Linked DNA regions of Homo sapiens. The protein of the gene in region 5 purifies or fractionates together with the protein of the main gene of each other region. This does not show direct contact. Each region holds a gene or a part of one and is shown on either strand. Other genes may lie near its edges. The genes, in order: splicing factor U2AF 35 kDa subunit-like protein, PON1, PDHX, NDRG2, MICALL2, NAA30 and NUBPL.

What was found.
Region 1: the proteins of MICALL2 (region 5) and splicing factor U2AF 35 kDa subunit-like protein purify together in Homo sapiens (affinity purification with mass spectrometry, with the first as the bait; one large-scale study listed by BioGRID). This does not show direct contact.
Region 2: the proteins of MICALL2 (region 5) and PON1 purify together in Homo sapiens (affinity purification with mass spectrometry, with the first as the bait; one large-scale study listed by BioGRID). This does not show direct contact.
Region 3: the proteins of MICALL2 (region 5) and PDHX purify together in Homo sapiens (affinity purification with mass spectrometry, with the first as the bait; one large-scale study listed by BioGRID). This does not show direct contact.
Region 4: the proteins of MICALL2 (region 5) and NDRG2 purify together in Homo sapiens (co-immunoprecipitation; one large-scale study listed by IntAct). This does not show direct contact.
Region 6: the proteins of MICALL2 (region 5) and NAA30 purify together in Homo sapiens (co-immunoprecipitation; one large-scale study listed by IntAct). This does not show direct contact.
Region 7: the proteins of MICALL2 (region 5) and NUBPL purify together in Homo sapiens (affinity purification with mass spectrometry, with the first as the bait; one large-scale study listed by BioGRID). This does not show direct contact.

What each region holds. Positions count from the first base shown.
Region 1 is NC_000021.9:6,489,249-6,492,748, reverse strand, and holds part of splicing factor U2AF 35 kDa subunit-like protein, read left to right. Parts: intron 1-456; coding exon of another isoform or gene 457-494; intron 495-551; coding exon 552-618; intron 619-3,500. UniProt on the Homo sapiens protein: Plays a critical role in both constitutive and enhancer-dependent splicing by mediating protein-protein interactions and protein-RNA interactions required for accurate 3'-splice site selection. Recruits U2 snRNP to the branch point.
Region 2 is NC_000007.14:95,304,033-95,307,532, reverse strand, and holds part of PON1 (serum paraoxonase/arylesterase 1), read left to right. Parts: intron 1-1,166; coding exon 1,167-1,248; intron 1,249-3,500. UniProt on the Homo sapiens protein: Hydrolyzes the toxic metabolites of a variety of organophosphorus insecticides. Capable of hydrolyzing a broad spectrum of organophosphate substrates and lactones, and a number of aromatic carboxylic acid esters.
Region 3 is NC_000011.10:34,989,618-34,993,117, forward strand, and holds part of PDHX (pyruvate dehydrogenase protein X component, mitochondrial isoform 1 precursor), read left to right. Parts: intron 1-2,697; coding exon 2,698-2,762; intron 2,763-3,500.
Region 4 is NC_000014.9:21,019,167-21,022,061, reverse strand, and holds part of NDRG2 (protein NDRG2), read left to right. Parts: intron 1-182; coding exon 183-245; intron 246-1,217; coding exon 1,218-1,278; intron 1,279-1,479; coding exon 1,480-1,566; intron 1,567-2,085; coding exon 2,086-2,142; intron 2,143-2,319; coding exon 2,320-2,423; intron 2,424-2,895. UniProt on the Homo sapiens protein: Contributes to the regulation of the Wnt signaling pathway. Down-regulates CTNNB1-mediated transcriptional activation of target genes, such as CCND1, and may thereby act as tumor suppressor. May be involved in dendritic cell and neuron differentiation.
Region 5 is NC_000007.14:1,442,471-1,445,970, forward strand, and holds part of MICALL2 (MICAL-like protein 2), read right to left. Parts: intron 2,959-3,500; coding exon 2,182-2,958; intron 2,122-2,181; exon of another isoform or gene 1,107-2,121; intron 15-1,106; coding exon 1-14. UniProt on the Homo sapiens protein: Effector of small Rab GTPases which is involved in junctional complexes assembly through the regulation of cell adhesion molecules transport to the plasma membrane and actin cytoskeleton reorganization.
Region 6 is NC_000014.9:57,407,586-57,411,085, reverse strand, and holds part of NAA30 (N-alpha-acetyltransferase 30), read right to left. Parts: intron 1,708-3,500; coding exon 1,570-1,707; 3' UTR 1-1,569. UniProt on the Homo sapiens protein: Catalytic subunit of the N-terminal acetyltransferase C (NatC) complex. Catalyzes acetylation of the N-terminal methionine residues of peptides beginning with Met-Leu-Ala and Met-Leu-Gly.
Region 7 is NC_000014.9:31,559,954-31,564,203, reverse strand, and holds the start of NUBPL (iron-sulfur cluster transfer protein NUBPL isoform 1 precursor), read right to left. Parts: upstream 2,801-4,250; 5' UTR 2,765-2,800; coding exon 2,657-2,764; intron 2,137-2,656; coding exon 1,989-2,136; intron 1-1,988.

The DNA.
Region 1 (3,500 bases), on a different chromosome or scaffold from region 5:
TACAGTGACTGAACCCCTGGCCTTTATTAAGTTCTTTGTGTAAAATTAAAACTCTTAGGAATATTAAGGAATCAATAAGGTAAGTTGCCCAGTAAGTGTGGGTTTTATTTCACCATTATAATTTTTCCTCCAGGAAGTGGAGATTTCATGATATGTAACAATTGTATTTCTCTAATACAGTAATTTTTTCCATCAGTTTATGTAAGCATTATTCTTTCCGAGTTCATTAAAAATTTTCTGCCACATCTAAGAACATTTTGGTGCTAGCCTGGCAAACTATTTGTGCTTTTACCTGAATTGGAATTTTGAAAAGGAGAGTTTTCACGTTCTGTAAGCAGAAGTACAAGATGGGCATATCATGAGACCTCCGTTACACCGCAGTGTTAGGGATTCAAGGCAGCCGCCAACTGAGAAAACGCCTCTGCTTCTCCAGAAAATAACTTGCTCTCTTTTCAGCACTGAATCTCAACTGAAGCACTTGCCAGAGGCAGCCGGTTAAGTGTTTACCTTTAATTTTCCATAATATAAAGTTGTTGCGTTTTGTATTTCAGACCATTGCCCTCTTGAACATTTACCGTAACCCTCAAAACTCTTCCCAGTCTGCTGACGGTTTGCGCTGTAAGTTCATACAAGTTCCTTCCCCGGTTCCCTGGGCTTGCGTGTCAGAGCTCAGTGTCCACTCCATCTGGTCTGCCGTGCTAGTGTCAAGGACCGCGTTTCACTAGAGGTGGCAAGGAGCTTTCGTCCCACTGACCCCATGGAAACCTCTTTTGGAGATTTGAACTCCCACCGTGTGTTAAAAGGGAAAAAGTAACTGGAAAGGGTGCCCTTTAAAACAGTCTAGAGCTGGGCCGGGCGCGGTGGCTCACGCCTGTAATCCCAGCACTTTGGGAGGCCGAGGCGGGTGGATCATGAGGTCAGGAGTTCAAGACCAATCTGGCCAACATGGTGAAACCCCATCTCTACTAAAGATACAAAAATTAGCTGGGCGTGGTGGCAGATGCCTGCAATCCCAGCTTCTAGGGAGGCTGAGGCAGAGAATCGCTTGAACCCGGGAGGCGGAGGTTGCAGTGAACTGAGATCGTGCCGCTGCACTCCAGCCTGGGCGACAGAGTGAGACTCCGTCTCCAAAAAAAAAAAAAAAAAAAAAAAACCAGTCTGGAGCTGCTGCTGCCCCTTCTTCCTTTACTTTGGCCGTCATCCTAGAGGGAATGTACTGGAATTAAACGTCGAGTCATATTCTTCCCTCTTAGAGCAACAAAATTTGAATGTTTCTCTCACTTTCTGGAATTTTTAAAAAGCAAACTTTTTAAGTTATTTTTTCAGATTTTATTTCTCATTAGCCTTTTTTCCTTGAACTCCATTTTGGAGTGCACCCTGTAGTTGTAAGAGCATTGTGCTGAGAGCGTTCCCCAAATGAGGGTCTGCAGCTTGCACTGACCCCTGAGTTCCTCACCCACCAGCCCCGTGCCGACCCGTCTAACCCGTGTGGGGGTGCTCCACTCAAATAGGCCCTTGGCAGAAAAGATTGTCCGTTCTGTCCACACACTGCCTGGATACAGTCTCCAGCTCTAGGAGATGGAATTGGTTTGCTCCATTTAGAAATAGATCAAAACTGGGCATTCAGTAGATGGTACCAATATCTTCCTGTACTGGGAAATACTAAATTTAGATTGTGAATATTTACCTAATGATAATTTTTAGAGAAGGAGATATCATAGATGAGTATGATTGGGAAGTTCAGAAAACTAAAATTTGATTTTTACAGCCATCCAACTATAGAATCATTAGAATTTAGTCATTTATGGATAAATTAAAATGAACACCTGGACTCTTGTTAAAATCAGAAAGTCCAAACCAAAGATAGGCACTTCCCATTCACCATTCTGTTTTAAAGCAGTAAAAATTGAGGTGCCCTTGGATATCCACAAGCCTAAATTGAGTACACCCTTGAACCAGAGCCCCTCAGTTAATGGGGTGACCGACATGGGGTAGCTGATCCCAGGGGGCATTCCCCTCTCGAGCTGGCCCTGCACTGGGTGGCCTGGGGATTGTGCTTCCTTGCACAGTGGTGCACATTTCTATGTGTGGATGAGATTTTCTTGTCAACTTTTCCTGCCAAGACACTAAATGCTTTTCAGTGCTAATACTGACCTGATAGTAGAGATTTCTTTCCCTGAGTCGGATGGTAGCAGGATTTACTTGGTAACCCTTGGTTTAAAATACCTGTTTTTTTGTTTGTTTGTTTTCTTTTGTTTTTTAAGGAAATAAGATCAATAGGCGGAGGGAAATTGTTTCTATATGCACTTATTAAATAATTTTTGTTAACAACCCTGCCCTGGGATAAAAGTGAATGGAAGTACATGACTGAGTAACAGTAATTAATTCTTTGCCCTGATCGTTTATTTGGGGACTGTATATGCTTTCTTGACTGACAATAGAATGTTGTATTAGTTTTCATTGTGTCTTTATTTGCAGTTCACAGCACTTTTGTTTTCCATATGCTACAAACTAAAAGTTTAGCAATTACGTTATATTCCAATTCTGGAGTCCAGATTGTACAAATTAGATGAAATTCTAATTCGTCATTTTAGGAAGAAATCAATTACCTAAAATTACTGGCTCTTTTCAACATACCCTTTAGTATGTAAAAAAATAAGCTTCAAATGCGTGGGTTAAAGTTAACTATCAATCCCAGTTTAAGAATGATATTTCTGTAAGAAAACTGCTTTATTTTCCAAGTTGTAGTATTTAACATAGGCTGAGTCACAAATAAGTTTTTAATTGTATCTTAATGCAGTTGTCTCTGCCTTTCAAGTCACTTTGATTGAAACATTTTAAGCAGAACAAATATAGCCAATAATTTAAAATAATCACCCCAAAACCATTTCTCAAACCTGCTAAAACTTTGAGCATGTGAATAATTTTCTCCTCTTCACATTCTTCTTATGTGGGAAGGAAGTGAATTTGAAATATTAAAATCTGCCCTTTGGAATAGGCTACTTTGGCCGTTTATAACTTGATTTCTACTCGGGGAGGAAGGTACATTCCCAATAGCTTTCCAATTGGGATATCCTGTGATATGATTGGCAGGCTGTCCGAGTAGTTACACTTAATAAAATTTGGGTTCGAAAGCAGATTCCTGGAAGTTCAAAAATAATTAAAACAGCCCCGGATAGGTTAGAAAGTGAACTTAAATCATTCTCAGAATTAGAAAATAAGAAGTTATTTTTTATCTTCAAAGATAAAAAGGGGGCCGGGCACGGTGGCTCACACCTGTAATCCCAGCACTTTGGAAAGCCGAGGCAAGTGGATCACGAGGTCGAGAGATTGAGACCATCCTGGCCAACATGGTGGAACCCCGTCTCTACTAAAACTACAAAAATTAGCCAAGATCACGCCATTGCACTCCAGCCTGGAGACAGTGAGACGCTGTCTCAAAAAAAAAAAAAAAAAAAGATAAAAAGAGTTTTGAGCAAGCTCAAAGACCCGTGTGCCAG
Region 2 (3,500 bases), about 94 Mb from region 5:
TATCTCATGGTGAGCTATAACAAACAATTTGCAAACCAACATTGGTCTGGAGACTGCATTTTGGGTAGCATTGGTATATACATGAAATATCTATATCCATCCACATATATGCCCTTTCTCATCTTGTGTCATCATCAAGGATTTTAGAGTCCGTAACATATGCTTAGAGAAAGCAACAGGGGCCAGGTGTGGTGGTTCATGCCTGTAATCCTAGCACTTCGGGAGGCCAAGGTGGGTGGATCACCTGAGGTCATAGACCAGCCTGGCCATCATGGCGAAACCCCATCTCTACTAAAAATACAAAAATTAGCCAGGCGTGGTGGCGCACTCCTGTAATCCCAGCTACCAGGGAGGCCAGGCAGGAGAATTGCTTGAACCTGGGAGGTGGAGGTTGCAGTGAGCTGAGATTGCACCACTGCACTCCAGCGTGGGTGACAGAGCAAGACTCTGTTTTTTTTTAAAAAAAAAAAAAAGAAAGAAAGAAAGAAAAGAAAAAGCAAGCAAGCAAGCAAGTGAGAGCAACAGGGACAGGGACAGCTTTTAATTATTCATATCATAGACCAGTTTTCAAAAAATAGAAGATAATTGAGCAGTAATTTCTTTTTTTTGTTGGGGGGATGCACAGTGCTTAGACTAACCCCAGATCTTTGTGGGGTATGACTAAAGCCACAGGGTCAGGACCACACTCAGGGCAGAAGAGGAGGAAGACTTCTCTTGATCCAAGCCAAGCAGCTTTTCTTCTCTCATATTTTCTCTGGATTAAAACAAGGGGCTGTTGTCCAAGGGCTTTCCTGCAACTTTCCCGAGAGAGAACTCACTAGCCCCTGAAATGCAGAACCTGGGCCTTGACACTAAATTGTCAAACCAAAAGAGAAACGCTGTAATGCATTTTACTCCCAGATACTAAAAGTTAGTGTTAGGGCTAAGTTCCTCCCATACTGATAAGGACAACTATGTCCCCTCCTTCAGAAACAACTTTTCAGAGATTAAACCCCTCTGTCACTGTAAACTCACTGAGTTCTTTCAGAATTTGGTGTGTTTGAGGTGGGTTCCATTTTCCATTCCTTAAGCAAAGTTCTTCCCTATGAATAGGTATTACAACTTCATCTTAATCTCTCAAGTTGTGTTACTTCTAGTACTTTGATGTAGCTCTTTCTTCTTTGAAGGTATGTCTATATAGCTGAGTTGCTGGCTCATAAGATTCATGTGTATGAAAAGCATGCTAATTGGACTTTAACTCCATTGAAGGTAAGACGTATTAACACTGTAAGTCTGCAGAGTGATAATTAGATTCTAATTGATTTGTGAAATTAAATGTGAAGAAAAAAGGACTGCTTAATTGGGGTGGGTGAGAACCAATTTTTCACTCCTTTATTAAGAGTCATTAGCTTGGTTATGTGTTTGTTGTTCATTTTTACTCAACTGCAGAGTGGCAAACAGCAAACCCCACCTCTTACCCGTGAACCTTGCATTCTTTCTGCTCTAGCAAATTTTAAGCTTGGCATTGTGTTCCCAGATCCTCCTTCCATCCCTCCCTTCCTGCCTTTCTTCTGATCTCCCTCTCCTCCACCTTCCTTCCCTCTCCTCCCTTTTCTTTCTCTTTTTTCCTCTATGTTGATGGAACAGCCAAGAAATAGCCTCAAATTGTACTTTATGCAGGGCTGCTCTCCACAATGTTTATGAAGTCCACGTGCTCACGATGGCTGCTAGGTGACCTGGCTGCCCCTCACCTCTCTGCCTTTACCTCCAACCATTGTGTCCCTGCCCCACGTCTCCTGCCACTGTCTCAGAACGGGGCACCATTCCCTCTGCTAGGAGGAGAAACCTTCCTCCAGATCTCCATGACCCCCTCCTTCATCTCCTTTCATTTTTACTAAAACGTCACCTCGATCTTCAAAACCTGGAACTGCTCCCTCCCGCTACGTATTTTCCCTCGCCTTTCCTGCTTTATTTTTCCATTCAGCACGTATTGCTAACATACTATATATTTTATTCATACCCTTTATTACCTGATTCCCCAACTAGGGTGTAAGCTCCACAAGGACAGGCTGTTTTTCTATTTGCTTCTGGTACAATTCACATTGACTAGTTGGCACTTAACAAATACTTGTTAAATTACTGCGGTGGGGCTGGGCATGCTTCAGGGATTCACCTGCTGCCCCCACCAATTCTGGTCATCTGAAGGTTGGAGTCAAAATGGGTGAAAACACAAAGGAGAGGAAAAAGAGACCAAGAGCAAACTAGAGCCCTAAGAAAGCAGCCCTCTACCTCCGAAAAACAGCAAGACGTTGCTTTCCTGCCATAAACGCCCACTGCAGGAAGCACTGTCAGCGCCAATTGTATGACTGTTCCTGTCAGCACATCTGAGAGACTGTCATGAGGGGCCTCACTCAGAGAAAATTACCTTAAAGCAACATCAAATGTAACATCGTGTTTGACATTAAAAATCACTGGCAGGGCTAGTTTGGTATTAGCTCAAGTAAAATGGAATTTCACACGCTCATACTGGCTAAGGGAATAAAAAACAAGCTGCGGTTTTAACAACAGGTATTTCTGTAAAACAAAAGTTAAAGAATTTTATGAGAATAGAACCCAATGTAACAGACATTCACCACAGAATGTCAAGGCTCTGCTCTCACCAGGGTGAGACTGAGGGCAAGGCCAGTTTCAGCAACAGACCAGGCCTGTCTCCCATCATGAAAACCCCAAAAAGGTTCTCCATCAATTGTCACATTATTCTTTCTTTTGAAAGACCGTATTAATTAATATCAGTTAATTAATGCCCGAGAGTGCCAAGTAATTTGATAAACTAGCTGAGGCTATTCTTAAATTTGTGATGAGGTGTGGATGGGTTTATGTCCAATTGGATATTGTTCAGCCTTAAAAAGGAATGAAGTTCTTGGCCGGGTGCGGTGGCTCACACCTGTAATCCCAGCACTGTGGGAGGCTGAGGTGGGTGGATCACGAGGTCAAGAGTTCAAGACCAGCCTGGCCAATATGGTGAAACCCCGTCTCTACTAAAGGTACAAAAAATTAGCCAGACATGGTGGCACATGCCTATAATCCCAGCTACCTGGGAGACTGAGGCAGGAGAATCACTTGAACCTGGGAGGCGGAGGTTGCAGTGAGCTGAGATCACACCATTGTACTCCAGTCTGGGCAACAAGAGCAAAACGCCATCTAAAAAAAAAAAAAAAAAAAAAAAGGAATGAAGTTCTGATACCTGCTACAACATGGATAAGCCTTGAAAAACATGATGCTAAATGACATAAGCCAGCAACAAAAGGATAAATATTGTACGATTTACTAATAGGAAGTACCTAGAACAGGCAAATTCATGGAGACAGAAAATAGAATAGAATGGTGATTGCTAGGAACTTGGGGGAGAGAAGAATAGGGAGCTATTGTTTAATGGGTACAGGATTTCTATTTGGGGCTGATTAAAAGTTCTGGAGAGGGATGGTGATGATGGTTGCACAACATTGTGAATATACTTAATG
Region 3 (3,500 bases), on a different chromosome or scaffold from region 5:
CAGTACACACTTCCCTCTGATCGTCACTTGGCTGGCTTTTTTTCATCATTGGTTTCTCAGTTCAGTTGCTAATTTCTTAGGCCTTCTGCAGCTTCTGTAGCTGAAATAGTTTCCTAACACTCTTTATCTCATTACCCTGTTTTATTGTCTTCATATGGTTTATTAGTCTTTGAAATTACCTTGTTTATTTATTTGTTCACCCTTCTGTGTTCCCTACTGTCTGATGTTCACTGTCCATTGCCATTTATCTAATTCTAGAAGAGTGCTTGGGATACAGTAGTTGCTTGGTGAATTTATTTTAAAACAAATTTCAGTAAAACTTGTTTCATTGAAATTAATTTTTCAAGAGTTTGTGGCTCTCTGCAGATTCATCCATGAACCCCAAGTTAAGAATATCTGTACTACGCATTTACTTCTTGACCCTCTGTAATCCCAAGGATGCCACTGTGGGGGCTGTAGGCATACCCCAGCCAAGTTCAAGTTGGTATTCCTTGAATAAAGTAATGTAGTGACACACCTTGGATCCTGTGTTATTCTTAATTCTTCATTACTTATAACAGTATTAAAAGGCAGAGGCATAGTTTACCTTATAAGTACCCAGTAAATTTTTTTAATGAATAGCAAGGCATTCGATGTATTGTAGAAATATTTAGTGGTCATTTTTTATTCTTTCAGCTGGATGCTTCAGGTAACATGTACTTTGATTTTGAGTCCACATTGCCAGGAGATCCCAGTGATGATTACAAATTTATAAAACCAACGATCCTTCTCAGATTCCATACCTATTTCAGACTTACTAGAGTTCACTGACAGGAATTTCCTGTTGATGTATTTAGGATCTACAGAGTTTTTGTTTTTAGTATGTGTGCGTGCAATCTACTTATTAAAGTGAGTTTTTTTCATTTGTGGTAATTGTGTGGTAGTTCATCAGGATATGTTGAGATCATCTGCCTTTAAAAAATGCCTTTTAAAGTTCATATATGTGTCTTTTCAAATCATGTGAACAATTACATTGCTTAAGGGAGGAAAAATGCTTTTATAGATTATTCTCTCTCCCGTTATTCCAAGAACTGTATAAGTCAAAATTCATCTCATTTTTTACCTTGAATCCAAATAGTTTTATAAATAACCACATCCAAATAGCATACACCTGTAATTGTTTCTGTTGGCAGTACGTTACAGTAATGTGTTTTTAGATTTTTGATATTTTTAAAGACTTTCAATTTTAAAAAATTAAATCATCTATGAATTAAAGTTAGTTATCAACTGTGATTGTAATAGTGCCTATGTTGCCTATGTAATACAAAATATTAAGTAAATTCCACATTTATTTTATCTACCCAAATGACAGTGACCTCATTTTTCTGTACCCTTCCTCTTAAGTTAATTCGTTATTAATTTTTTATATATGATGACTCAACCTCTGTTCCCTTGCTTTTAAGCACTGAAAAATAAAAATTAACAGAAATGTGGTTAATTCCAAGTACAAGTGAGAGGAAAATTTAACTAATATGTCATCTGTCTTGTCTTCTGTAAGATTTTTAGAAATCGCTGTGGTCAAGAGTGATATGAATCAAGTACATCCTTATATTCCTTGTGGCAGTGTAAATTGGACTAGCTCATTCAGGAAATGATTTAGCTATAGGATCAAGAACCAAAAGAAGTCTATTCTCTAGGGCACTATAATTCCACTTCTGAAAATTTACCTGAAATAATTCAGAAGAAACCGTGAACCAAATTATAACACTGGGAAATAACCAAGTAAATTAGGCAGGTGCAGTCTTTAGGAACAAACATTAAAAAATCATTTCTGAAGGCTGACAACACAGAAGATACATATAATATTGAACAATTAAATATAAAATTTATTTTTTATAACCATTGTGTGGGGTTGAGATTGTGGATAAAGATGAAGCAAACTCTGAAAGATAAAAACGGAATGTTGGTTGTGGGATTGTGGGTATACTACTTTGGTTGCCATTGGATAATTTATTTAAAACACACAGATTGGCCAGGCATGGTGGCTCATACCTGTAATCCCACCACTTTGGGAGGCCGAGGTGGGTGGATCACTTGAGTTCAGGAGTTGGAGACCAGCCTGACCAACATGGTGAAACCCCATCTCTACTAAAAATATAAAAAATTAGCTGGGCGTGGCGGTGGGTGCCTGAAATCTCAGCTACTCAGGACGCTGAGGCAAGAGAATTGCTTGAACCTGGGAGATGGAGGTTGCAATAGGCCATAATCACACCACTGCACTCCAGCCAGGGCAACAGAGTGAGACTTCTCAAAAAAAAAAAAAAAAAAAAAACTAAAAAACACTAGATTGACCAGAATGGATTCTTGTATTTTTTTTCTTACCATAAAGTTTTATAGGCAAAATAGAAAATTTCATTTTGCATATAGGAAACTCTAAAGCATTTTGCATAATAATTGATGGTACACAGGGTAATTCCCACATTTGAAAAATTGTTAAAGGAAGTGATTTTTCTAGAGTTTTGATTAACAGCTTTAGTTTCTTGAATTATCTGTGCTCTTGTTTGTTCTTATAATTAGAGAAAATTATTTTTATATAGGTAACAAAATCAAATCAAGGCATATCAGAGATGAGAGTATATGATGTACAAATATTTCAAGTGACAAGATCAACTGTATAACATTTTGTTGGTTGTCCTATTCTGTTTGTATTTTTCTCAGGCTCTATCAAAGAAAGCAAGAGATGGAAAATTGTTGCCTGAAGAATACCAAGGAGGATCTTTTAGGTAAAATTTAAACTCTTAATTATCCATAGCATCAAACAGATAGATGTAAGACTTATAAAGTCCCTGTCAGCCTTTCATTTATCTGAAATATTTTTTAAAATTTAAGCTAAAAATACTTTATTTAGACAATAGAATATCTGAAAAAATTCTTCAGACTAGTCAGGCTTTCATATTAAAGCTAGTAGGAACCTATTAGTGTTGAACTAAACGTTCGTTGGACATTGACTAACATGGAATGATAAATATTATGTATTCTTTAGTATCTGACCCACCCCCAATATTAATGTCTGTAATATTATATTGCTATGTGAAACAACCACTTATTTATTATTGCAGCATATAATATTCTATTGTATAAATATACCAGAATTCATTTTACTGTTGGTGGGCATTTGCGTTGCTTCCAGTTCGGGGCTATTACAAATTATGGTGCTATGAACATTCTTATTAGTGTCTTATAGTGAATGTATGTACATTTTTTGTTGTATAGACCTAAAAGTAGAATTCCTAAGTTAGAAGCTTTAGCAGCTACTACCAAACAATTTTCCAAATGGTTATACAAATTTACACCTCCACCAACGGTCCTGAGAATTCCCATTGCTCCACATTCTTGCCACTATTTAATAATGTTAGGTTTTAAATTTTAACAATTCTTGGGGTGTGTAGTGGTACTCTTTGTAGGAAAATGCAAATTAGTGATGTTGAGTACTTTTCACTCATCAGCCGTTTGGGTATCTG
Region 4 (2,895 bases), on a different chromosome or scaffold from region 5:
GTAAGAGTTAGGTCGTTACTGCTTCACCAGACTGTGAGGAACAGGACAGGTGCGGGAAAGGTTCGACTGGGGAGGAGGAAAGGGAGGGCAGTGGTTATTCTGGGAGAGAATGAGTAGGACATCCTGAGGTGGGGGGTGTGAGGGCAGGTTGGTATCTTCCTTAACATGCCTCTCTTTTCCAGATATCAGTACCCATCTCTGGACCAGCTTGCAGACATGATCCCTTGCGTCCTGCAGTACCTAAAGTGAGAGGCCTGGGAACCCCTCCAAACCAGAGTTCTCTTTCCAGCACAAGGAGACCCTTAGAACTTCCAGGTTCACCGTGGTTCCTGAGCCAGTTTCAGCTTCTGAACTCAATATATCTTCTTCCTTCATGCTCCCGCCTTGATTATTGAGAAAAGGTGGTGGGTTTGGAAAATTGGCCAGAGTCAACAGAATAGCCCTAATGGGTGGAGGGAAGGAAAAGGGTCTATGCTTGGCCCTGCCTCAGGCTAAGGAGGGCCTTCTCTGATCAGAAAGTCAGGGAGGAATGAAAGGGGGTGACATAATCCCTGAGGAACCAGATAGACCTGTCTCTTTCTCTCCCACTCCCCTCTCCTTCATGCCCACACCTGGTGGATGGGGAGCTCTGCGGGTGAGAGAGAGTTGGGGAAGGAAGAGAACACCAGACCAAGTGTCTTTGGTATTCAGAGGGAGGTGCTGGCCCCTGGGTGCTGTTCTTAGCTAAGCTTCTCCTAGGCACCAGGGCTCAGCAGCTCTGGTTCACCACTTTGCCACTCTTTTCCTCATTCTCTCCATTGTTCACTAAAATTGTGTCTGTTTTCACATTTGCTTTAAGTTCCATTCTTCCCGTTCCTCTAGAGGAACCAGGAACTAAAGCAGAACAAGTTGAACTGGCTCTTGAAAATTGAGAATGGACAAAGAGCTATCTATATGGGAAAACAGTGTGTTGGTTGGCTGGTGGATGGGTGTTTGTTTTTAAGACACTAGCTCTCCAGCAGAAAGCTGGGGATAGACTTCAGGTATCTACCCTGACTACCCGTGCCAACCTTTGGCTTCTTGGGCCCTTCTTTTTCGCGTCCTCCAAAGAAAGGTCCGTGTCTGCCTTTCTTTGTGCCCGTGGACTCAGGAGGGAGGGTGAAGAGTTTGAAGAGATGGGCTGTGGCAGGTTTTGGACAGCAGATCCCATGAGGCGTATATTTCTTTCCCTTTCACAGTTTCTCTACAATAATTGGAGTTGGTGTTGGAGCTGGAGCCTACATCCTGGCGAGATATGCTGTAAGAAATAAAAAGCCCAGAGGAGGGAAAGGAGGGTCCAGACTGATTAGGAGAATACTGTTTATTAGTGCTGTTTGGGGGAGGAAGTGGGCACTAGGTGGGGAGTCAGGCCCTGTGGGAGTCCAGGAGTGGGTCGAGCTTAGCGGGGAGGGGATAAGGCCATGCCCTGTTTCTCATTTCCTTCCTTCTGCTGTCCCTCAGCTTAACCACCCGGACACTGTTGAAGGTCTTGTCCTCATCAACATTGATCCCAATGCCAAGGGTTGGATGGATTGGGCAGCCCACAAGGTTTGGAGGGGCCTGTGTGCTGAGACCTACGGTTGGGGATCCCCTCGTATGGATCCAGTTAGGCTCTGGTAGATAGCCTAACTGGATGGACTCTGAACTTCAAGGAGGGAGTAAAGGGGCAGGAAAGTGAAGCTGTCACTTTGCCTGAGTCTCTTATAATATCCTGAACTTTCTTTTTCTTTTTCTTTTTTTTTTTTTTTTTGAGATGGTGTCTCACTCTGTTGCCAAGGCTGGAGTGCAGTGGCTTGATCTTGGCTCACTGCAACCTCTGCTTCCTGGGTTCAAGTGATTCTCCTGCCTCAGCCTCCCAAGTAGCTGGGATTACAGGCACCCGCCACCACGCCTGGCTAATATTTGTATTATTAGTAGAGATGGGGTTTCACCATCTTGGCCAGGGTGGTCTTGAACTCCTGACCTCGTGATCCACCCGCCTCGGCCTCCCAAAGTGCTGGGATTACAGACGTGAGCCACTGTGCCTGGCCAATACCCTGAACTTTCTCACCTGCCTTCTCCTCATAGCTAACAGGCCTCACCTCTTCCATTCCGGAGATGATCCTTGGACATCTTTTCAGCCAGGTAAGTGGGTGTAGGAGATGTAGAAGAGTCGACGGGAGCAGCAGGGAACTTGAATGCTTGGGCTAACTTCCTTAGCTGGGACAGGATTTGGGGAAGGAAGAAGGCTTACCTCTTTTCCTCCAGTAATTGTTGTTTTCTCTTTCCATCCCTAATTTTTCTCCTTGTTCTCTCCTTCAGGAAGAGCTCTCTGGAAATTCTGAGTTGATACAAAAGTACAGAAATATCATTACACATGCACCCAACCTGGATAACATTGAATTGTACTGGAACAGCTACAACAAGTGGGTGGGCTGTGTGTGTATGCATGTGAGAGAAATGCAGAAGCAGTAATTGGGCGTCATGGGGGAGGCACAGAGGAGGAGAGGGAAGTCTGGGTAGTGTGCAATGTGCAAGGAATGCAGCATTTAGTGTGCAATGGGGGCAGCTTCAGGACAGAGTCAGTGGGAAGGATTGCAAGGGGCTGTCCCCCTTCTCTTGTTTACCTCCTTTGGATTATTGGACTCCCAGAAGTAAGATGATCTTGTGTCCTGTGTCCTTCCTCCCCTTTTGTTGCCCTCTGACCAGGGATCTAGGGCACAAGTGACTATAGGGGCTGTGCTTGGGGCCTGCCTGCCCCTTTCTCCTTTGGTTTCCACCTTTAATAACCAAGATTTGACCGTAATTTTTAGACAAAGATAGTTCCATCATGGGAGAGATAGCTTATATCTGGTTAGATAGCATTGCCCACCTAAAATTCCTACTCTTTTAACCCCT
Region 5 (3,500 bases):
TGGCTGGGGAGGGCCTATAAGTAAAAGCGCAGGCATCAGGCACAGCTGGATCCAGGCGCCCTCCCACCATCACCCGAGGCCGCCCCTCTGCCTCCCTGCAGCTCACTCCCAATGCCCAGCCTCCGGACGGACTCCCACCATCACCCCAGGCCACCCTCCACCTCCCCCACCATTGCGCCAGGCCACCCCTCCGCCTCCCCCACCATTGCACCAGGCTGCCCCTCTGCCTCCCTGCAGCTCGCTCCCAATGACCACCCTGGCAAGGCACAGGCCACAGACACCTGTTTCTGGCATGAGCATATGCTGTGGTTGATTCTCCTCCCCTGTGAAATCCAGTGTTGGCTGAGATTAAAATATCCACCCCCTAAACACACCACCCACCCAGGCTGGAGGCACCTGGGGCTTTGTCAGAGGCTGGGCCGGCCTGGGCTGCCAGGTTCAGTCCCATGTGACACAGTCTCTCTGGCCCCGCCAGACACACAGACACAGGGCCAGACACAAGGCCTCCGTGCCTTCCTGCCTTCCCTCAGGCACACACCAGGAGTGAGGCTGCCAGAGCCTGAGGTGGGGGCACCAGGTGCCTCCCCACCCCCGAGCCAGTGCCTCCATGTCCCCACCCCCCTCGACAACCAGTTTCCCTCCCCCCTTTCCCTTTACACTGGGCTCAGGTGTGCCAGGCCAGCTTCCCCAGAGGAGCTGGGGTCCTCCCCAGCCACACATGCCCCCCGCCCCACCACCTAGGAAGCACTCCCTGGAGCACCCCCGCCACTCATCCTCAGTCCCTAGGATGCCCTGGACACCCCCCAGTGCCAGGAGGAGCAGAGCGAACTCGCTCTTCTCCTGTCTGTGACCACCCCGGAGGCTCTGAGCACCCCCTGCTGACCACTGCGGGGGCAGGAGGCAGTTCTGAGCAGGGGACGCCTGCACCCCACGATACGGGGCAGGAAACGGCGTTGTCAGCCAGGCTGCGACAAGCATTCTTACTCGCTAAGTGACTGTACTTGGTCGAATGGTGACCCCTAAAAGTCATGTCCACTGGGAAGCTCAGAGTGTGACCTTATCTGTAAACCATCTTGGCAGTTATGATCATGTTAAGATGCACTCACGCTGGGTTAGGGTGGACCCTAGTCCAACAACCATGTCCTTAGAAGAGACAGAAGAGGAGAAGACAGACAGAGAGAAGGCCACATGGAAACGGAGGCAGAGACTGGAGGGAGGCGACCACAAGCCAAGAACGCTCAGAGCCGCTGGGAGCTGGAAGAGACAAGGACAGGTCCACCCCTAGTGCCCTGCAAGGGGACGCGGCCCTTCCCCCGCCTCAAGGTCAGACTTCTGGCCTGCAGAGCTGTGAGGGGGTGGATTTCTACTGTGTAAGCCGCCCAGTGAGGGGGTCTTTGGAAACTGATGCAGCGCCCCCCTCTACCCGTCCACGTCATCTGCTCAGGGTCCAGGCACAGGCAGGCGCCGGGCCCAGGCATGGAAGGTCAGGGCCTGGCTGGACTCAGTCAGACAAGGTGATGCTCAGCCCAGCCAGCGTGGGTCCCGCTCGCGACCTGTCCCCGCGTCCACTCAGACCCGCCAGCGTGGGTCCCGCTCGCGACCTGTCCCCGCGTCCACTCAGACCCGCCAGCGTGGGTCCCGCTCGCGACCTGTCCCCGCGTCCACTCAGACCCGCCAGCGTGGGTCCCGCTCGCGACCTGTCCCCGCGTCCACTCAGACCCGCCAGCGTGGGTCCCGCTCGCGACCTGTCCCCGCGTCCACTCAGACCCGCCAGCGTGGGTCCCGCTCGCGGCCTGTCCCCGCGTCCACTCAGACCCGCCAGCGTGGGTCCCGCTCGCGACCTGTCCCCGCGTCCATGAAATGGGCGTAGGACCCTTGGGTTCCAAGGGAGTGCAGCACAGGGGGCCCCGGAGCGGCAGCGCCACCGCACCCATGACGCCCCGAGCACATGCGGACAGCAGCTTTTCCATAAGGACCCGGCTTCCACCACCCTGACCACAGGCACTGCCACCCTGGCTCCTCCTCCCCATTCCCCAGAGAAGGAAACAGGCTGGGGGAAGTGCAGTCCCCAAGGCCACACAGCCAGGGAGGTGCAGCGCCCCCAACCCCTCTGGCCTCCGGGGCCCCGCTGGCTGGTGCAAAGAGGCCATACCCGGGGTCCCTCGGTCCCCACGCGCTCACCTGCCAGGCGCCGGAGCGCCAGCCTCTTCCAGCGCTGAGAGGGCCTGCTTGAGGAAGTTCCGCGCCTGCTCCTTGCTGCTGTCCTTGGATAGAACAAGTGACGGGGTGGGACCTCTGCCAGAAAGGCTGGTGCCGGGGGGCACTGCTGATGTTTGGAAAAACTTATTCCGGGCCTGCTGGGTCCTGGAGGCGGACGGGGTCCAGGCTGGGGGGTCCACCGTGGCTGCAGATGTGGAGCTTGAACTGAGTGTGGTTTGAGGAGCTGCCACTCGGGGGGCTCCCCCACCCTGGGGTGTGGCCGGGCGAGGGTCTGGGGCACTCGGGGGCACGGCGGGATGGGAGGCAGCCGCTGCTGTGCACGGGGCAGCTGACGACCAGCCCATCGGGGAGCTATTGGTCACACGAGGGCGGACTTTCCCCTCCGTGGGAGTGGGGGCCAGGCGGCTCTCAGAGGGCCTGGCTGGGCTCCTCACGTGGACGGACGTGGCGCTGGTGGCTGCAGGGTTGGGTGCAGCTGGAACGGAAGCCCTGGCAGGCGAGTTGCCCGCAGCAGGCTCCCAGGCCGACGGTCTGGCCTTGTTTGCCTCCTGGGCCTTCTGTGGGGAACAGGAGGTCCTGGAATCCACACCCATGGCCCCTGGCTGTCGGGGGACCAGACCCGTCAACTTGGGGCTTGCAGAGGCGGCTGCGGGGAGGTGGCTGGTGCAGACGAAGGTGCCCGGCTCTCCTGTGGCCTTGTAGGCCCCCGAGTGCAGCGTGCAGGAGCACTGCTTACACCTGGGGGAGGAAAGGCACAGGAGCCCCAGCTCGGCACCGCCCACCCCGCCACGCATTCACCACGTGCTCCTGATAGCAGGCATTGCGGACTCCTGTGTCCACTTGCGAGGTTGCTGAACGCCCGCCCCGCCACGCATTCACCACGTGCTCCTGAGAGCAGGCATTGCGGACTCCTGTGTTCCACTCACGAGGTCGCTGATTCATTCAACAAACGCCTCTTCTCAGGGTCCTTAACCACTTACATCACAAACCCCACCAAAAACCTCGTTTGGGGTGCAAACCCCAGAGGGTGCTTGTGCAGGTCAGCAGACACACACCCACAGGCCACCCCAGGCCCCACCTCGGGGCTGACCCACCCTGGCCTCACAGCGTGGGGGATGGAACTGGGAGGACCGGCCCACCCCAGCCTTGCAGAGCTGGGGACAGAAGTAGGGGGAACAGCGCTTGTTTCCTAGGAGCCCCCACCCGGGGTGCAGGGTGGCAGCAAGGGGCTGGGGATGGCCACTGAGTACAACACCAGTGGGAAGGGCTGAGGCACAGAA
Region 6 (3,500 bases), on a different chromosome or scaffold from region 5:
GCTTTCCTTTAAAAAAAAAAAAAAAGCAACAAACTTTCCTGAAAAGGGGCCTTTACCAACTGTTAATGGAGGTAGGGTTTTTAAAAATACAGTAATTAGAGCCACAAAATATATTCCAAACCAAATACTAGAGCAGAAGTAGAGCATATTCAAATGAAAACAACAACAGATTCCTACAGTTTTCACAGAGAATGAATCTTTTTTCTTATGGGTACCTAGGTTTTCCAGTTAAATAAATTATCTATCACAGGTTTACTGACTCAATTGAAAGCAATTAACTGTAAAATTTGTTACATTGCACTGATTGGCCAAAACACAATGTAACTAATAAACATGGTGGCTGTTAAGAAAACCCACAGAACTCATTCCAAAAAAGATTTTCATTTCCCCCTTTTGTTTTTCTGGCAGAAGAAAAGCAAAGCTCCCCCAAGAATTTGCTCATACAAGTGAAAATAAAATAAAGCAGCTTAAAATGGATACAATGCACCTTGAAATTTATTTCCAAGACCAAGAACCTGAAGTGAAGCATTTTAAGAAATGAAAGCAATGTGAATCCAAATCAAGTGGGAAAAACAAATTCAGCTACTTTGTAAAAGCTGTTCTTCGCAGCGTAGCAGTAATTTTGATTAAATAAAATCATATCAACTTACACTAATTTTCTATTCTTTTCCAAAACTTCCCTTACTCTCAAAAGAAAAAGTGCATCTAAACCCCAGCAATTCCCGGCTCCATCAACTTTTCTTATCTCTTTTGAGCCATTTCTCAATTTTCCAAGTAGATTCAACTTGTTACTGTAAGGAAAAAGGGACTTCTAAAGTAAACCATTCTTTCATTCACCTGAAAAAAGTATCCAAATTATAAAAATCTGAAATAATTTATCAAATTTAGAATTTAAATAAAAACAAAAGTTTGCTTGCAAAGGCCTTAAAGAAAAGGAAAAGATAGCATGCATTCAAAAACTAGAGATGAAGACAAATATACTTATCTACACAGGCACTGGCAGACAAAATTTAATTGTTACCTTTACTCATTGTAAGACATACCCACCCTACATTTTTTTCATTCACTAATCACTGAGGTACCAATATTCAAGAATGGAAAATTTAATATTGAAAAAATAAAACCTAAAACTGAAGCGTCTCCCTCACCCACTTCAGAAAACTAGGGCAGGTTTTGTGTGAAATGTTAGTATACTTAAAGACTTTTACAATCCACATTGGCTTTTTTAAGGAACAAAAATTATGTTCCACTTACTGGTTCTGTGATAAAATGATCACTGTGTAAATAACATTGTCAGCAGACTTTGCAAATGAACACATAAATCTTGGCTATCAACTGGCACATCTTGTTGGTACCAAAAGAACTCCTGAAGTTTAAAACAATCTTTTAATTCAGAACAAATGTGCCATGCCAAAGTGCAACAAATATTGTGCGACACTCAATGAGACACTGACAGGTAAGAGCTGCATGGAAATTACTAAATCCACCTGCAAAGCAATTCTGTACAAATTGCATTGCATGCAAAGGTCGATTCTGTGCGGATGATAGTTGTTCCTTGATGTCAGTTTCTCAACGCAGCCACAGTTTAAGTCGCAGTGCATCAACTCCATTTAAATAGTATCTGAACAGCCTCTTATCTCGAACAAAACCAAGATTTTCATAAAGTTTCAAAGCGGACTTATTTGTTATTTCGGTTTCCAAAACAACCTTCAAAGAAATGAGAAAAAAACTAAGTTATAATTACACAATTTAAAAAATAATTTACCAACTAAACAATTTTTTAAAAAATCATACATTATTTTAAAAATTGATAGTGAAAACAATAAATAATATACAGAAAGAACTCAAAAACAGTCATCAAGATTGTAATATTATATTTGGGTCAAGGGCTTGGAGGACCACTGCAGATTTATCTTCTGTTCTACTGATTTGTGTAGTTTGAAATGTTTAGCAATGAGAGTATGTTTTATACTAAAACAAAGATTAATTATTTCCCTGTGGGGAAAGGTAAAATGACTACAGATGAAAATAAAATCAACAATCAAAAGTGCTGGTTTATTTCCTTAAAATAATAAGCTATATTATTATAAGCAGCTATTCAGATTGACTTCCAACTTCTGTATTTTCATTAATATGTCATTTATTCTGGCAATAACTACCATATTTGTCTGGAGTCTCGACCAGAGTCTGCAAACTATAGACTTTGGGCCAAATGTGCCTGCTGTTTTGTAAATAAAGTTTTAGTCAAACAGCCATGTTTATTTGTTTACATGATGTCTGTGGTGGCTTTCTCAATACAAGGGCAGAGCTGAGCAGTTGCCACAAAGACCTATGGTCCACAAAGCCTAAAATAATTACTAGTGGGCCTTTTACCAAGAAAGTTTGCTGAATCCAGACAAGAGGTATTCAAAATGTTACAGTGTATCATAATCACCTGAAGGGTCTGTTAAAATAGATTGCTGAGCCCCACCCTCAGAGTTTATGAGTACGTTTGCAGTAGGACACAAGAATCTGCATTTTTAATATTTTTAAATTGCTAGATGATGATGTTGCTGCGGTCAAGGGACCACATTTTGAGAACCACTGGTCTATATAGCAAAGCTTAACAGAGGAACACATAGTATTAACTTTCATTTAAGTCTTTTGAAATATTACTGAGCCAGTGGCCCTGACAATGAATAACTGGTATTTTTGAAAACTGCGATTTTATTTTTACCTCCCTCTAACACCCTCTACCCCATCTTCCCAACTTTTACACACGTAGCTCTATTTGCCTTTTCAATTGTTTCTCAACTTATTTCATTGAGAACTATCAACACAGTGAGCCACAGTTACTATTGGGTGTCATAACCCTCAAGTGTTTGGAGTGGGTGGGGGGGAAATGGCAAAGTATAATTAAACAAAGGCCCAAGTGAAGCATAAGTCTCTTCCTGTTCTTTCTCAAGCTATCAAAAAGTCTGACAAGAATGCAAACAACTGATGCAAATAATAAAGACAGTACCTCAACTTATATCCAAAATTGAACTCATAATCTGCTCTTCCTCCTCAATTCCATATCTCAGTAAACAGGATCACCCCCCACCACACCAATGCCTCAAACCTGAAACCCAGGAGTCATCTTTGAACCTCATTCCTCTCCAACCACCTATATGCATCCAAGCACTGATTATTGTCAATTCTCCCTCTTAAATCTCTAAGTGGTCCTCTTCTTTCTATGCTCGATATACCACAGTCCAAGCTGCCATCAACTCTCACTATAATTACAAGAGCCTCCTAACTCAAGAGGTCTCCCATTCTCTCTAGAGTTAGGGTGATGCTCTTGTTAATTCTCTACTTAAAACCGTTTACTGATTCCCTCTTGTCCTCAAGAGAAAGTCCACAATCTAAAAATAATATCAAGAGACATAAAAAGTCCATCAATATATTGGCCTCAGCTTTGCTTTAGGTCTCTCTCTTCTTGCTTTCCATGCTCAACACTGAATTTTCAGTTTCTGGAACCC
Region 7 (4,250 bases), on a different chromosome or scaffold from region 5:
GACCAGCAATAGGAATATGCTACATCCGAGAAGAGTAACACAATTCAAAGACTGATCAACAAATAGGCGCTCATAATGTGAATCACATTTCCTTACAGAACAATGGTATAAACTATGTCAGGGTTATTTTCTTAAAACTAGTTAAGAGCATAAATTTTTAAGGCAGACCTGGTTCAAATCCCAGCTCTGCCACCTTCTATTGTGTACTCTTGAGTAGGTTATTTTACCCATAAGTCTGTTTTCTCTTCTATAAAATGAAAACAATGCCTACTTCATAACTGTGATCAGGATTAAACGAAATATTGCATGTAAAATACTTAGCCTAGGGCAAAGACTTGATAAATTCGTTTTTATAAGTTACAAAATTCTGAATTTCAGGTACAAGATAGGTTACACATAATACAACTTTAAGGCAGAAACTTTCAGAGGGCAATTCATTTTAGAGTTAGGTTCTTCCTACATTTAAACAATAGAATCACTGAGCATATTTGCATTAGTCAAATGTCATCATTCTAATCTAAAACATCTCTAGCATGTATATTCAAATGGGAAGTATTTTGAAGTAGTTTGAGGCAGGAATAAATACATATAAGGAAAAGAAATATATTAATAATACCAATAGAGTTACATAAAAATAACCTATTTTTAAGACTTAGATATGCTCACAGAGCTGTTATGAAAAAGTATGGGCCAGCTTTTCGGGACAGATGGTATAATGTTAACAGAAAAAAAGTGAGAAAGGGACATTTACTGAAGCACCCATTACGTGTCACATGTTGTACACTTTCTCATACATTTTCCTGTTTAAATGCTTTCACATTTCATGGCAACAATCATCTTCCAACTAAAAATAATAAACAAACAATCTTAAACAAGTGCCAGCCTACAGACCCAACAAATTACAAAACGCAAAGAACTTATGGCTACAATCATGAAAACACCTTCCATCCTTATCCAGTTCAAGTAATCACAGAGCATGCAAAAGGATTCAAACCACTGAAAACTGAAAAATGTACTCCAAAAGGTTCTAGAACCAAAAACTAAGAGCTTCTAAATTTTAAAAACAACCAGATGGATTGTAAACCTTTAGGAAAGAAAGGAAAAATGTGCAGGAGAGCACATGAATTCATTAAGAACAGATTATTAATTTTTTTTAACAATATGGTATCTATCAAATAGTAATGGATTAGTGATCCACCACAAATACAATATTTGGTAAATCTTAACTTTTCCAAAACATCTGACAAATTCTTCCAGAATTCCCTTCTGATAAAAATGGGGAAAAATGAGCTAGTAGGCAGGGCGCGATGGCTCACACCTGTAATCCCAGCACTTTGGGAGGGCTAGGCGGGCGGATCACGAGATCAGGAGATGGAGACCATCCTGGTTAACACGGTGAAACCCCGTCTCTACTAAAAATACAAAAAAAAAATTAGCCGGGCGTGGTGGTGGGCGCCTGTAGTCCCAGCTACTTGGGAGGCTGAGGCAGGAGAATGGCGTGAACCCCGGGAGGCGGAGCTTACAGTGAGCCGAGATTGCGCCACTGCACTACAGCCTGGGTGACAGAGCGAGATTCCGTCTCAAAAAAAAAAAAAAAAACAAAAAAAAAAAGTTACTAGATGTTTTAAAAATAACAGCAACCAATTATTGAACACTAGTAAACACTAAGCTAAGTGGTTAGCTTGTGCAATTTGAATAACCATCTTATGAAAGAAGTTATCTCCATTTTACAGTTAAGTGAACTGAAGATTTGCTGTACAATCTGACCACTTTTTCCTGAGTTAAGGGGTGGGAGACCCGGCTAGTACCTACTTTTGTCTAACTCCAAAATCTAAGCGTCTACCCGCTACCAACTCCTGAAACTAAGGAATCACATGTTAGGAACTTCACAAATAAATTTTTAAAACACAAAACTATAATTTCAATAGTGTGCACTTGTCTGTTGGCATAAGTTCTTAATCAGGAATAGAATTAATATCCTATAATACCTGCTGTAGTAGATTTTCCGACTCCACCCTTTCCAGAAGCCACAACTATAACTTGTTTAACACCTTCTATCGGTTTCTGCTTTGGAAGTCCTCGGGACATGATTTGTGTTCTTCTTTGTTTTAGGGTCTCACTCCCGGCGCCAGACAACTTTAAAAAATAATAATAATAAAAAGCCGTTTTAAATAAGCCATCTCCATCATCACACTGTAAAAGCAAAAACAATCTGGGGTTTGCAATTAAGAGGGCTTTCTTTTCTAATTCTGCTCATCTTCACTATGGAGACATTTACCTACTACTACTGATAACAATTGTAAAGACACATTGCTTAAATTGAAATTTTTCTAGCAGGATACGCTGAACGTTTAAAAATGTAAAAACGCTGCCTCTTTACGGAGATAAGGCTTCCACGTGTTTTGCTTTTCTTCAATCTATTTGATAAATAACCCAAAGCCAAGAAAGCAATGTAGAATACCACATCTACGTTCTAACTGTGTTTCAAGTCCCGCCACGCCTCAGCCTGGGCCTGCCTGAAAAGTAGGCACGTCCAGCACACTGGGGGTCTCAGGAACTGAGGCGAGTCTTTGGCAAGAAGCAATGCCAGGGCATCTGCGGCCCTGCAGCCCAGCATCTGTCAGCCCGCTTCCCCCTGCCCTGCAGCACCACGGACCTGGCGCCCACAAACCATCGCTCGGCTTCCCCCAAGCGGGGCAGTGGCCCCGCCACCAGCCCGGAGCGACACCCCACCAAAAAGCAGCAGACGCTGCCAAATCCCCATGACGCGGAACGCTGCTGTGAGCCCTGCTGGGAAACTGTCGCGGGTGGCGCGGAGTGATGACGTCACGGAGCAACGCTCGGCTTTCTCTTCCTAGCAACCGGTCTTCTTTGGGTTTGTTGGCTCAGGAACCCAATCTGCATGATCTTGTTTATAGCCAGCTACAAACATTTTGCAGCGTTTTACTAAACGTTTGTGAAGTGTTGTCATATAAAACATCTCTTATGATACTTACAGAAGTCCCGAGGTAGACAGAAGACTTACCTAGTATACTCTTTTTATGGACAAGAAAACGGAGAAAGTTTAAAGAGACTTGACCCAGCTTAACAAAAGTAGGAAATGGGGGACCTTGAAAATGACCCCAGGATTTCTTACTAAGCAGTATATGGTCATTTAAATACTACCACCGTTAAGGATTTTACCTTTTTATTTTATTTTTTCCCGTGTGATCTACAGTGAGAGTCTGTTTTGCGTTGGTATTCATGGCTTGTGTTGCTGACAGTTCCCTGAAAGAAAGGTCAGGTTGCTTTACCAGCAACCTGGTAAAGAACTTTGCAAGTTCTTCCAGACTTAAGACTCATTTATTTAACAAATATTCGTTGAGCAACTACTATGTACCGAGTACTACAGTAGACTTAAAATATTCAGCATTGAGACCGACATAATTCCTCCACTAAAGGGCTTTATAATCCAGTGCAAAAGACAGAATAAGTTAACAACAAAATTGCGGTATAATATGATAAGTACAGGAGAAAAGCATTGAGGGATACAGGAGAAAGGACAAAGTGATACAAAGAAAGGGCACTCAATTCAATCAGGGGAAGCTTCTAAATTAGGTAATATCTAAGCTGAATGCTGAATCTGAATAATGTGTAGAAGTTAGCTGGGAGAATGGCAAGGAGATTGTTGTAAAGAGGTTAGAAATGGACTGCTAAGGCTAGGCATGGTGGCTCACGCGTGTAATTCCAACACTTTGGGAGGCCAAAGCAAGAGGATTGCTTGAGCCAGGAGTTCAAGGATGCAGTGAGCTATGATTGCACCACTGCACTCCAGCGTGGGCAGCAGAGTGACACCTTGTCAGAAGAAGAAGAAAGAAGGAAGGAGGAAGGAGGAAGAGGAAATTAAAAGGAGAAGAAAGAAGAAGGAAGAAGAAAGAAGAAGAGAGTAGAAGGAAGAAAGATGAAAGAAGAGAGAAAAGCCCCCGCCCGGCCAGCTGCCCCGTCCGGGAGGGACGTGGGGGGCAGCCCCCATCCGGTCAGCCGCCCCGTCCCGGAGGGAGGTGGGGGGCAGACCCCGCCCGGCCGCCACCCCGTCCGGGAGGTGGAGTCACCTCTGCCCGGCCACCCCGTCTGGGAAGTGAGGGGCCCCTCTGCCCAGCCGCCACCCTGTCTAGGAGGTGTACCCAACAGCTCATTGAGAACGGGCCATGATGACGATGGCGGTTTTGTCGAATAGAAAAGGGGGAAATGTGGGGAAAGGAAAGAGAGAT